Regions from separate parts of the Homo sapiens genome. Here region 2 is linked to region 1. Evidence: fine-mapped QTL for protein levels in blood plasma. A gene starts in region 1. The other region holds a variant in brackets. All regions are shown on one strand. Distances are from middle to middle.

Evidence for each region. PIP is the chance, under the fine-mapping model, that this variant and not a neighbour inherited with it causes the effect. Protein levels are from the aptamer-based SomaScan assay of Sun 2018.
Region 2: its variant is fine-mapped to the plasma level of the SPINK5 protein (Sun 2018, PIP 0.95).

What each region holds. Positions count from the first base shown.
Region 1 is chr5:148,056,807-148,065,174 of GRCh38, reverse strand. It overlaps SPINK5 (serine peptidase inhibitor Kazal type 5), which reads right to left and starts at 1,195. Exons shown (of 33, transcript NM_006846.4): 1 at 1,076-1,195. The coding sequence starts at 1,130.
Region 2 is chr5:148,118,768-148,123,618 of GRCh38, reverse strand. It overlaps SPINK5 (serine peptidase inhibitor Kazal type 5), which reads right to left. Exons shown (of 33, transcript NM_006846.4): 24 at 4,561-4,633; 25 at 3,483-3,610; 26 at 3,228-3,324. Among named protein-coding and RNA genes, the nearest start is that of SPINK14, 47 kb to the left of the region's middle. The variant C/T (reference allele first, on the strand shown) is at 3,932.

The DNA of each region.
Region 1 (8,368 bases):
GACCAGGAGATTAGTATATATACTCACAAAGGTCTAATCACTCAGAAAGTTACAATTACTTTGGAAAATAATACTCATGTGAATTCTAACCCCATCAAAATAGCTTATCTTCAAAAGGTCCTTTCGGAGTAATAAATGCCAGCCTCCCTTTTAAAATTACAATATAACATACACACAAAATACTATACCAATTATAATTTTGAAACTATATTATAGTTGAAACTATAATATAGCATTACATTTATAGGATATATACATAAAATTTAATTTTCTGAATTCTGGCAGCTCTACCTCCTTATTACAGCTGCAAAAGTTAGAGATCTGACAGAAGGTAAGATTAAGGTCACAGGCTATTATACTCTCTCATTAACATAGGCTCTTTTGTACCTACACACCTATTTTAGGAAAATGGGCATTATTTGTATATGATTTCAGACTATCTATGAGTTTCTCTTTTTAAAAATTTTAATGTTTCAGAGCAACGTAAGTCTAGGCAATTTGTGTTCTCTTAGGGTTAAATAGCAAATATAAAAATCTACCTTCCAGCTCCCACAAAAGTCCCTCACTCTTTGGGAGAAATGCTTTCAACCCATTTAGCATTTGAAAACACAAGACTAAAATAAGCTAGAAGATACCACTGCTTTAAAATAAGAACAGATGATTGAATTTTAAAAAATATTTCATTTATACCTATAACATTAAAATACATATATTATTTACAATTAAGTTTTAAATGTCTATTACATATATAAGAATATGCATTATGAATTGATACATTTAGCAAGAGGAAGATGAAGAAGAATCTATTCAGTTTTCTGAATTAATAAAGAATTAATGGAAGAATTTCTCATGGTTAGAAAATTCAGATTATCTCAAACTACTTGCCATTTCTAAAGATAACAACATAATTATAAAGCCACATATATAAATCTTCAGAACTCTGTGTCTGGCAAGACATTTCAGGATTATACATGCATACGTAAACATTTTTTGGCAGGAGTAGGGGGAGAAAAGTCCCTTCCCCAGGGCTTTGAGATGTGTGGCAAGAGGCTTAGATTACACACAAATTGCTCACCTTGTATGAGGCAAAGAGCCAAGGGCAGAAGCACTGACACTGTGGCTATCTTCATGTTGAAGACGATGCAAGTCGCCTACAGGTCCACTCCATGCATTGCTCAGCTGGTGCAGTATGACTGAACTCGGGGCGATGCAGTTTACTTTTATAAAGCACTGGTGACACCCACATAAAACCAGTTGTTCAAGGTCATGGGACTTATATACCACACCACTTTAGCTTCCATCCTTTAGGATCCTGTCAGGGTGTCAGGTTTGAACAGAGAATATCTATTTCTAAAGTAGGAATGTTCTTTCATGGTACCTCCCCCAGAACGCAATTGATGGAGTCCACAGACCCTACTCAAAGTTGAATATTCTATAATCCTATATAATAACCGAATTCCTCAGAAATACCAGATATACTACCTCGTAGACAAACATGTTTCTGACTGGACTCCCTTCATAAGTGGGAGAGGAGAGGAAAGGAAGACAGATTGGTTGTCCTACCAGTCAGGTATAGATTTAAAGATTTCCACATCCAGAGAAATCCAGGGTTCCTGTTCTGAAGTGTCTGAGTTCAGTGTCACAGACTCATATATATGTTAGAGTTGAACGACCCTAAAAGATAACCTGGCAAAATTCTAATGTTGAATATATAGGGAGGCAGGAACTCAGAGGAGCAATGACTTTCTCATAAGCAGACAGTTTAGTTGGAGCAGGCAGAGGAGGCATCCAGCACTTGCAAGCAGACCACACATATAACATTCTTTCCTCTCTGTACACTGCTTCATCCTTAGACATTAGAAAAGGCAGGAACGTTGGAAAAATAAAACTTGTATGTAACTACTTTTAAAACTTCTCAATCTGCAGGATATTTTATATTCTGAAGCCTTATTTTATATCCTAGCCAAACATCATAATCATAAACATTGGAGACTCAGTTTAACTTTCCATAGCCTATGATTACCCATATTACCGTTTGAAAAATTTGGCTCAATCAGTTTTCTCTAAATCATATTTCTTCCTGTATCATCCCATTATTTAGTCTCCCAAAAAGAAAAGAAGAAAAAAGTTGTTAACAATTATAAATGTGTAAATGTAACATTTTTCTAGAGAAAGTTTCTTCTCTTTAGTTGCTTCTTTCATCCTACAAGTAACACCTTTTTTCTACCAGCTTATTTTGCCCTAATAGCTTAAGAAAGCACCTGAAGAAACATGTGAAGATGACTGAAACCAGAGCCAAATTGTTTCATTCCAGTACTTCTCAAGATATTCACATCCACAGAAGAAAAGTTCGAGACTTTATCCAATTAAAGGCCTTTTTATGATGGTTCCAGAAAACTGATCAAAGTTGCCCAACTTAGGGAGTATGCCAATATTATGAGATTTATCACAGTGAGATAATACGTCCTTTCTTTTTTCTCTCATGAAATAATTTATTTCCTATAAAAATATAATCACTGGGCCAGGCACAGTGTATCACGCCTGTAATCCCAGCACTTTGGGAGGCCAAGGCTGGCGGATCATGAGGTCAGGAGATCGAGACCATCCTGGCCAAGATGGTGAAACCCCATCTCTATTAAAATACAAAAATTAGATGGGCTTGGTGGTACGCACCTGTAGTCCCAGCTACTCTGGAGGCTGAGGCAGGGGAATTGCTTGAACCCGGGAGGCGGAGGGTGTGTGAGTTGAGATGGCGCCACTGCACTCCAGCCTCAGCGACAGAGCAAAACTCCATCAAAAAAAAAAAAGATATACACACACACACACACACACACACACACACACACATACATATATATACACACACATATATATATATATATAAAATCATTGGTTTCAAGGTCTGCACTATTGTTGTAGCTTGGCTCCTTTCCAATGGAATAGTAAAATTAGTGACCACGGAAAGCAAGTTCAAATTCCATTATTGTTACAGGTTAGAAAATCAAAGTCCATCATAGCTTAATGGAAAGAGAATGAGACAGGGTTTCAGAAATCTGTTTCTATTCTATGTAGTCTTTTCAACTATGTAGGGATAGAAATGAACCCAGCTTTGAAGCAAGCTAGAAATGGGTCCAAATCTTGAATTGTTAGCCATGTTGCCTTGGACAAGTCACTTATTTTCTCTAAGCCTCAGTTTCCTAATATGTAAAATAAAAATAATAACACGTACATTGTACTAGTGCTAAGAGGTTTAGAGATAAATCATATATATAATGCGTGTGTGTTTGTGTGTGTGTGAGAGAGAGAGGTGCTTAGAACAATTATCAAGTTTATGTGATAAGCTTGATAGTTAATGATAGCTGGTCTTGCATTTTTACATAATTATAATAACGTGGTTGTACTAGATAATTTCTAAGATACCAAGAAAAGTAAACATCTGTTGACTGTGGATTTCACCAATAGATTTATATTTACTCAGCATAGAAAAACTACCCCAACACAATTTGAGGTGAAATTAAACTATAACGATATATGTTCTCTTTTTCCCTTTTAATTGTATTTTAAACCATAATGCCTAAACAAATCGAAACATCACCTGTTAAAACTTAACGAAAACCATTGCTCTGTTTCAATCAGCATTGATTTCTTGTCTCTTTCTCTAAAAGCCTCTTCTAAATATTCACATATCAATACTAATTTTTTATCTTTCATCTGCCCTGTCAGACCATACGAAATGTGTCCCAACCATATATTCTGTTATTGACGGTAAAAGAGTTTGATGCCTTAAAATGGAATCAATGACTGTGTATTATGCTCTAGTGACCCCTAGCCTAGCCCAAATGGAGAATATTCCCAGGAGTGGAAGTGGTGCTAGGGTGGAACAGAAGAACCAAAAGATGATTGCCTGTCTTAGGAATCTCTACTATGAGGAAACATTGAAGACATTGGTTTCCTTCTTACTGGAAAAGAGCTCCTCAGAGATGCCAGCCTTTTCTGAAATGATGAATAAAAAGTTTGAAACTGATATCTTTTCCAAATGGAGAAAGTAGTAAAAAGAAGATTCAGTGAGCACCCCCAAAATTGGAAGTACTCATCAGCTGGCTCATTTCATTAGGGCTTCTTCTCCATTTCATTTTAGGAATGTTGTAAAGCCAGAGGTGATTCATCACATGCTCTGTTAATTACTCCTCATTCCTGAAAATCACCATGAATATTACATTTAAATGAATGGGATTGAAGGTTTGGAGAACTCAGGTTTGGGTCAGAGTTAGGTTATCAAGGTATTCTTCTAACTCAAAATATCATCCTTGTTTTTAACTCTTTCAATTATTCATCAAACATGTAGAAACTTTTTTCCTCTCATTAGAAATGAGTGGGCTTAGATAATAAAAACTATGAATTTTACAACCTTACGCATTTATGAGGTTGGCAGAATCTGAAGGATACTGATACAGGGGGAGGAAATGAGAAAATTATAAAGATTGTTGTAGATCAGTAATGTTACTACAAACAAAGGTTATTTCCAAAATATAAAGTTACCATATCATTCCTAAAGTCTTCTGTTTTTCTACACAGAGGGAGCCTTGATGACGATAATAGTTAATAAATAACTATAGTCTTTTATGATTAGATCACCTTCCACAGCTTTCAAAACAACCTGCCATTCATTAGCTCTTTTGATTTGTTTATGCAGTGTTGTGAGGCAGCCAATTAGGTGTTATTATCTTTTCTTTACCAGCCAAAATTGGTGTCATAAAAGAAACCTGCAGTAGGAACTAGCTGGGATGGTCATCTCAGCCTTGACACTTTCTTACATTTTATACCTTTAATTTCTCTGAGTTTCCCCACGGCCATCTCACAGACTTTTATACCGTTCAAAGAGAATCCAGATCGAGACCATCCTGGCTAACATGGTGAAACCCCGTCTCCACTAAAAATCCGAAAACATAAAAATTAGCCGGGCGTGGCAGAGGGCGCCTGTAGTCCCAGCTACTCCGGAGGCTGAGGCAGGAGAATGGCGTGAACCCGGGAGGCGGAGCTTGCAGTGAGCCGAGATCGCGCCACTTCACTCCAGCCTGGGAGACAGCGAGACTCCATCTCAAAAAAAAAAAGAGAATCCAGACGTTACAGTGCTTTAAACTAGATACAGCCCTATGCATGCACACACACACAGACACACATACACAATCACTTGGGCAAAAAGAGGTATGTTGTGACCATGAGTAAAATTTATATATTCTAATATATCTTAAAAGATGAAATAATTTCTTTTTTATTTTTTTATTTTCTTTTCTATAATTCTAATATTTTCCCCCATCAATCTAACATGTCTATATTCTCCTGTTTGTTTGTTTGTTTTGAGGCGGAATCTCACTCTGTCCCCCAGGCTGGAGTGTAGTGGTGCAATTTCGGCTTACTGCAAGCTCCGCCTCCAGCGTTCATGCCATTCTCCTGCCTCAGCCTCCCGGAATAGCTGGGACTACAGGCGCCCACCACCGTGCCTGGCTAATTTTTTTTTTTTTTTTTTTTTTTTTGTATTTTTAGGAGAGACAGGGTTTCACCGTGTTAGCCAGGATGGTCTCGTATCTCCTGAACTCGTGATCCACCCGCCTTGGCCTTCCAAACTGCTGGGATTACAGGCATGAGCCACCGCGCCCGGCCTATATTCTCCTTTGTAAAAGACACTAACTGGAAAACAGCCTTTACTCATCTTCTTATCTGGTAATGTTGCATTACCAACTAACTTCACTCTCTCTGTAGGAATTCCTTTCTGTTTGTCTGGAAAGACTAAGAAACTAGAGATAAGCCTCTCATTTTATCTAATAATAGAATGGGATGGGCATTGTTTGTTTACTGAGTATATAGACCCTGCTATTTACAGACATAATTACTGCTTTTATTAGATTAGGATTAAGAAGACAGGAATTTCAATGTCTAATTTTTAATTGTATTAATATTTTCATATGGGTTATATTTTATTTTAGAAACAACAATCAGCTTCTCCCTATAGCTGATATTACTTGAACCCCTGACCCATGGCCCCACACTGTTTATCACTCAAAAATTTAGTGCATTTTAAAGTCTCCTAGGATTTATCCTGACAATAGAAAACAGAGGTTTGAGGAGCTACAGTCTTTCAATAAATCATAACAAATTAATCCTGAAGTACCTAAGAGTCTACCGGCCGGATGTGGTGGCTCACGCCTGTAATCCCAGCACTTTGGGAGGCCGAGATGGGCGGATCACGAGGTCAGGAGATTGAGACCACCCTGGCTAACACGGTGAAACCCCGTCTCTACTAAAAATACAAAAAAATTAGCCAGGCACGGTGGCGGGTGTCTTTAGCCCCAGCTACACGGGAGGCTGAGGCAGGAGAATGGCGTGAACCTGGGAGGCGGAGCTTGCAGTCAGCTGAGATCACTTCACTGCACTCCCGCCTGGGCGACAGAGCAAGACTCTTTCTCAAAAAAAAAAAAAAAAGTCTACCTAATTTTAGCAAAAAAGCATTGCAAATTTTATATGTGTAATATGTGTGTGTGTGTGTGTGTGTGTTTACAGTAGGGAAGAATGAAACTGTTAGATTTATAGCAAAGTTAGAAAAAGATTATCTTTACAAAATAATTTGTAGGCCGGGCACCGTGGCTCACTCCTGTAATCCCAGCACTTTGGGAGGCCGAGGCAGGCAGATCACGAGGTCAGGAGATCGAGACCATCCTGCCTAACATGGTGAAACCCCGTCTCTACTAAAAGAAAAACCCGTCTCTACTAACAATAATAAAATTAGCCAGGCGTGGTGGCGGGCACCTGTAGTCCCAGCTACTCAGGAGGCTGAGGCAGGAGAATGGCATGAACCCAGGAGGCGGAGCTTGCAGTGAGCCAAGATCACGCCACTGCACTCCAGCCTGGGTGACAGAGAAAGACTCCAACTCAAAAAAAAAAAAAATTGTAAAGAAATAAAATTTGCTAACACATTTCATGCACTTAGGTACAACAATAAATATAAAGATTAAGTATCATTTTATTCTTACAGGTAAAGCAACTGAGGTTTGGTGAGATTCTATAACTTTTCCAAGGTCATACAGCTTGTAAGCAGTGATCTTGCAAATGATCACAGTCAATGTAATAAAGGCATTCAAACTCCAGAGCCCAGCTTCTTAAACACTACACACCGTAGTAACCACATTGCCTACAACTGTAACTAATGTGTCTCAGGTACTCAATGTTAAGAGCTAAACTCTGTCTGCCCAAAATTTATATGTTGAAGCCTTAAACCCCACTACTTCAGGGTGTGCCTATATTTGGAGATAAGTAAAAGTGGTGGTTAAGTTAAAATGAGGTTATAAGGTTAGGCCTTAGACCAAACTGATTGATGTCCTTACTAGAAGAGGAAATTTGGACACACAAAAGAGACACTAGTGATGCACACACAGAGGAAAAACCACATGAGGACACAGTGGGAACTTGCCCATTACAAACCAAGAAGGAAGCTTCAGAGGAAACCAAACTTGCTGTCACTTTGATCTTGAAATTCTAGCCTCCAGAAATGTGAAAATATAATAAATTTATGTTGTTTAAGTCACCCAGTCTGTGGTATTTTGTGGCGGCAGCCATAGCAAACAATACACTCACCGTATGTATTGACCCAGTCACATGCAAACTGTGTAAAAATGTATAGACACAGTTATACGGTTGAAAATACAGTCTTATGTAGGCTCCTTTCTCTTTAAGTAACCAGTACATTAAACTTATGATCCTGTAGAATAGTGTTAAAGAGAAACAGAGCTGAATATTTATTAAAAGTGGCAAGACTCACTTTATCTGGGCTATTCCAATAGAGAAAAGAAACTCCAGTAGAAACCAAGCTCAATTCTGCTAAAACCAGAGGCAGGATGCTTTTTTAATGCTGAGGTGTGCTGTATTAGTTCATTTTCATGCTGCTGATAAAGACATACCCGACACTGGGAAATTTACAAAAGAAAGAGGTGTATTGGATTCATAGTTCCACGTGGCTGGGGAGGCCTCACAATCATGGTGGAAGGCAAGGAGGAGCAAGTCACATCTTTGTAGCAGTCAAAGAGAGATTGTGCAGAGAAACTCCCATTTTTAAAACAATCAGATCTCAAGAGACTCATTCATTATCATGAGAACAGCACAGAAAAGACCCACCTCCATGATTCAGTCATCTCCCACTAGGTCTCTCCCACAACACATGAGAATTATGGGAGCTACAAGATGAGATTTGTGTGGGAACACAGAGCCAAACTACATCATTCTACCCCTGGCTCCTCCCAAATCTCATATCTTCACATTTCAAACCTGATCATGCCTTCCCAACAGTGCCTCAAAGTCTCAACTCATTTCAGCATTA
Region 2 (4,851 bases), 60 kb before region 1:
CTAATGGAATTTCACTAAAGCAGCCCATTCCTTTAAAAACTATATATATATATATTGCAAGCAAGATTATATATATATATATATATATATATATATACACATATATTGCACCACTGCACTCCAGGCTGGACAACAGAACAAGATTACATATATATAACAAGATTATATATATAGATAGATAGATAATATATATCTATATATATAATATATTATATCTATCTATATATATATATAATCTTGTTATGTATATAATATAATCTTGTTATATATATATAATCTTGTTCTGTTGTCCAGCCTGGAGTGCAGTGGTGCAATCATAGCTCATTGCAGCCTCCAACTCCTGGGCTCAAGCAACACTCCCACCTCAGTCTGCTAAGTAGCTAGAACTACAGGCATGTGCCACCATGCCTGGCTAATATTTTAAAATTTTTTGTAGAGACGGGAGTCTCTCTGTGTTGCCTGGGCTGATCTTAAACTCTTGGCCTCAAGTGATCCTCTCGCATTGGCCTCCCAAAGCACTGAGATTACAGGCATGAGCCCCCAGTGCCCTGTCCCATCTCATTTTAATACCATTTTCTATGAGGCAGAGCCCCAAACCTGTCTCCCTATGAGTGCACTCAGTATTCCACACATAAGTCTACTTCAAAAGCCCTGGAATGAACTAAACGACACTCTTCTGGCAAAACATAAAAACACGTAAACTTTCAGCTTCATTTCTCAACCACAATTTACCAAAAAAAAAAAAAAAAAAATTATTGTGCGAGGTGCTTTATCGTGTGGTTTAATAGATTTCCTTTAGTGGTTGTAAAAATCTTATAAGATAAATACGCATCATCCCCATTCTACAGATGAGAAAAATAAATCTCAGAGCTATTAAATAAAGTCAGTGTTGAATTTGTGATCAGAAACCTGCTAACCACCAGGTTATACCTTTTTACTTATTTGCTTTTACAAGTCAGAGAATAAAACTCCTATGTGTGGATAAGTATATGGAGCTGCCTTTTGTGTTCATTGAAACATAATGATCATAAAAAGAAGCCAATAGAACCGAGTCTACAGATAGGATCTAGAATGTACTAAAATCTTCAGAGAGCTACAGAAGTCTCTGGAACTTCCTGTAAGCCCAAAGAGCCAAAGTGGTGATATGGAAACATTACCTTAAAAAATAACACAGTAACCTAGATTGTACTTACCCTTCTTTCTTTAAATTGTGATGTCCGTAAACAAACAATTCCAGGCCTTACTTTTAATTGCAGCATTTTAAAAAATTCTCTGGAATTAAATACCTATCAACATATTAAATGTCTCACAACCACCATTTTCACAAATTACTGGAAGTATTTTCTTTTCCAGGTGCTCACAATACCACATATTTTTATAATAGCACTCCTCTGACTGTATTGCAACCCTCCAATTCAGTCTTTGGCTCTTCTATTCATTAATTATGTGTAGTTCACTTCTCTTAAGTTTTCCTGAATTCTAAAAAATTGGAACAATATCACCACTGAATAGATTTTGGGGAGGTTTAAATATAATTATTGGTAAACCTTATTTAACGTTGCATGTGTAGATAAAACGGTAGTTCTCTATTTGACACACACACACACACACACACACTCACACACAATCTCAATATTTTTATTTTTTTTTTAAGACAAGTTCTTACTCTGTTGCCCAGGCTGGAGTGCAATAATGCTATCATAGCTCACTGCTGCCTTGAATTCATGGGCTCAAGTGATCCTCTCACCTTAACCTCCCAAGTAGCTAGAGTTACAGGTGTGCACCATCATGCCTGGCTATTTTTTTTTTAATTATTATTATTTTGTAGAGACAGGGTCTCACTATGTTGCCCAGGCTGGTTTTGAACTCCTGGGCTCAAGCAATTCTCTTGCTCTGGTCTCCCAAAACACTGGGATTAAAAGAGTGAGTTACCACACCCTGCCTCCATATTTTCTTTATTTTTTTTTTACTCAGTATTTTCTATATATAAATATATATAGCATTTTTCTGTTCAAAATTTTTTAAATAAGGATCATAAAATTAAAAATTTACCAAGATTTTAAATAGATGTCCTTTAGAGATCATGTGAAGTTGTGCAATAAGGTTATTTTCTCAAAGCCATTTCATCTACCGTAACACACAACAGATATTCCCAAAATATTTTTAAATAATGATAATTACTAATAAGGTTTCATTTTCTTTAGCCACTACAGGCTTAATGAAAAGTTGCCCTACTAATAGGAAAAATCTTCCCAGGGAAATTTCGCTATTTATCTTTTCTAATTGGAGTCCGTCGGTGCATTAAAAGATTGTGCTGTGTAATATTCTACGTGTTGGTGTTGTAGTGTTGAATACTATTTATAAGGACCAAAACTGAACACTAGGTGGCAATGAAATGCCAGATCAAGAATTTATTATCTCAAACTCCAACTTTTCTTCTTTTTCTTTTCCTTTTTTTTTTTTTTTTTTTTTTTTGAGACAGAGTCTTGCTCTGTCGCCCAGGCTGGTGTGCAGTGGCGCTATCTCAGCTCACTGCAAGCTCGCCTCCCAGGTTCACGCCATTCTCCTGCCTCAGCCTCCTAAGTAGCTGGGACTATAGGCGCCCGCCATCGTGCCCGGCTAATTTTTTTGTACTTTTAGTAGAGACGGGGTTTCACCGTGCTAGCCAGGATGGTCTCGATTTCCTGACCTCGTGATCTGCCCGCCTCAGCTTCTCAAAGTGCTGGGATTATAGGCCTGAGCCACCGTGCCTGGCCTCAAACTCCAAATTTTTGATACTGATTTTCTTTGTAATTTTTGGCATCTGATTGCTTGATATTTATTTGTTTAAAAAATTCAGAAACAGCAGAGTGCGATGGCTCATGTAATCCCAGCACTTTGGGAGGCTGAGACTTGAGCTCCGGCAAATTGCTTGAGCTCAGGAGTTCGAGACCATCCTGAGCAACAGCAAGACCCTGTCTCAAAGGAAAGAAAAAATTCAAAAATGAAATTCACTGGCTAACTACAATAATTTGACAGTTGTCACTGGTTCTACAATTGCATCAGAGTCACTCCTGGGGAACTGAAGAGCATGCTATTTATTTTCAAGATCTGGCCATGACTTCATTGTTTACCGTTATATCACCAATGATTGGGACAGAGTCAGCATTTCACAAATATTTGTTGAATAAATATACCATACAATGAACTAACTGAATTCAGGTATTAGCGTGTCTAACATCTATTACCTCTTTGTCATTGCTCCTTTCTCCTGTATTGCTCCTTTCTCCTGTATTGCTCCTGTCTTCATCCTCTTTCTTTTTTTTTTCAGCTGCTTCCCTTTCCCTGGGGGGAAAACAATGAAACATTTCAATCAAAGTGAACAAACGCCTCATTAATTACCAGATCTGCTTCTAAAACAATTGTCATTTTCCCAAACTGGTAAGAAATGATTATTGTACTTTAAGACTCACAGTCAAAAGCTCATTTTGAAACATACTCACAGTTTTTCCTTACACATAGTACACTTATTGCCATGTGTCTTGCCATCTGGACCCCGGACAGGGTCACTTTCTCGAGTGCAGATGAGTTTTCCATTTTTCATTTGGCTTCTAAACTCATCACATGTATCCTGAAAAGATGGGAAGATTATATTGGAAGTGCTGTTTTTACATAATATTTGATTGGATTTGAGAATCAGAGGATTTCTTTCCAAGAGTCAGGCAGCCATGTAACCTTGCTGTGATAGGCAAAATAATGTCCCACAGAGAGAGACGTCTATGTTCTAATTCCTGGAACCTCCAAATATGTTGCTTTACGTGGCAAGGAGGAATTATGGTTGAATATGGAATTAAGATTGCTAATCAGTTGAATTTAAAATGGGGAAGTTACCCTGGATTATCCAAGTGGGGCCCATGTAATCACAAAGGTTCTTACTCATTAAAGAGAGAGG[C/T]AGCGGCAGGACAGTCAGTGTGAGAATGATAAAGCATAAGAAGGACTTGACTGGCCATCACTGGCTTAAGGGTGGCCACAAGCCAAGGAATACAGGTAGCTTCTAGAAGTTAGAGAAAGCAAAGAAACAGATCCTCACCTAGAGCCTCCACAAAGGAATGCGGCATTACCAACATCTTGGTTTTATCACAATCAGACCATTTAAAACTTATGGAATCCAGAAATATAAGATAATAAATGTGTGTTATTTTACGCATCTGCTTATAGTAACTTACACTAGCAGCAAAATAATGCAAAAACAAAAATAAATCCCAGTATACTTGCAAAACCTCATTTTCCCTATCTACGAAATAAGGTTAAAAGGCCAAATTTGACCAGGCTGTTGAAATAATTAAATAAACTGTAATTTATAAAAATGCCTTGTAAAGTGTCAGACTTAAAGATGTCCACTTGGCATTAGGTTTCTTCACTGAACAAGTTATCAGTGAGAGTCACTGATAACTTGGTAACTCCTGACCTTCTAAGGGCAAGCTCTAGCTTGATCATGTTGACACCTTCTTCTATAGTTTTGATCGCCAACTGCTGACTCACAGAAAGACGATTCTTGCCAAAACCCAAAAAATAACTCACCTTCCCTGATTCTGATCCAGTCCCATTTGATCTGGAGCGAGAATACTCATTTTTTCTCTCTGCTTCTCTTTCCCTGGAGGAGAAAAAAGTGAATATTCATCTTGTTAACAAATATTGACCCTGGATTATGCACTAAGTGTGTCCCGTGCAAATGACAAGAAGTCAGCTTTCTTCAACTGTGCTGGTCAATGATTCCAAATGGCCGTGACAAAGTCTTCCTAGGATTCTGGCACAATAAAGAACAAGGGTCTATCATGATAGCACTTAGAGTTCACAGAATTGTAATAGAAA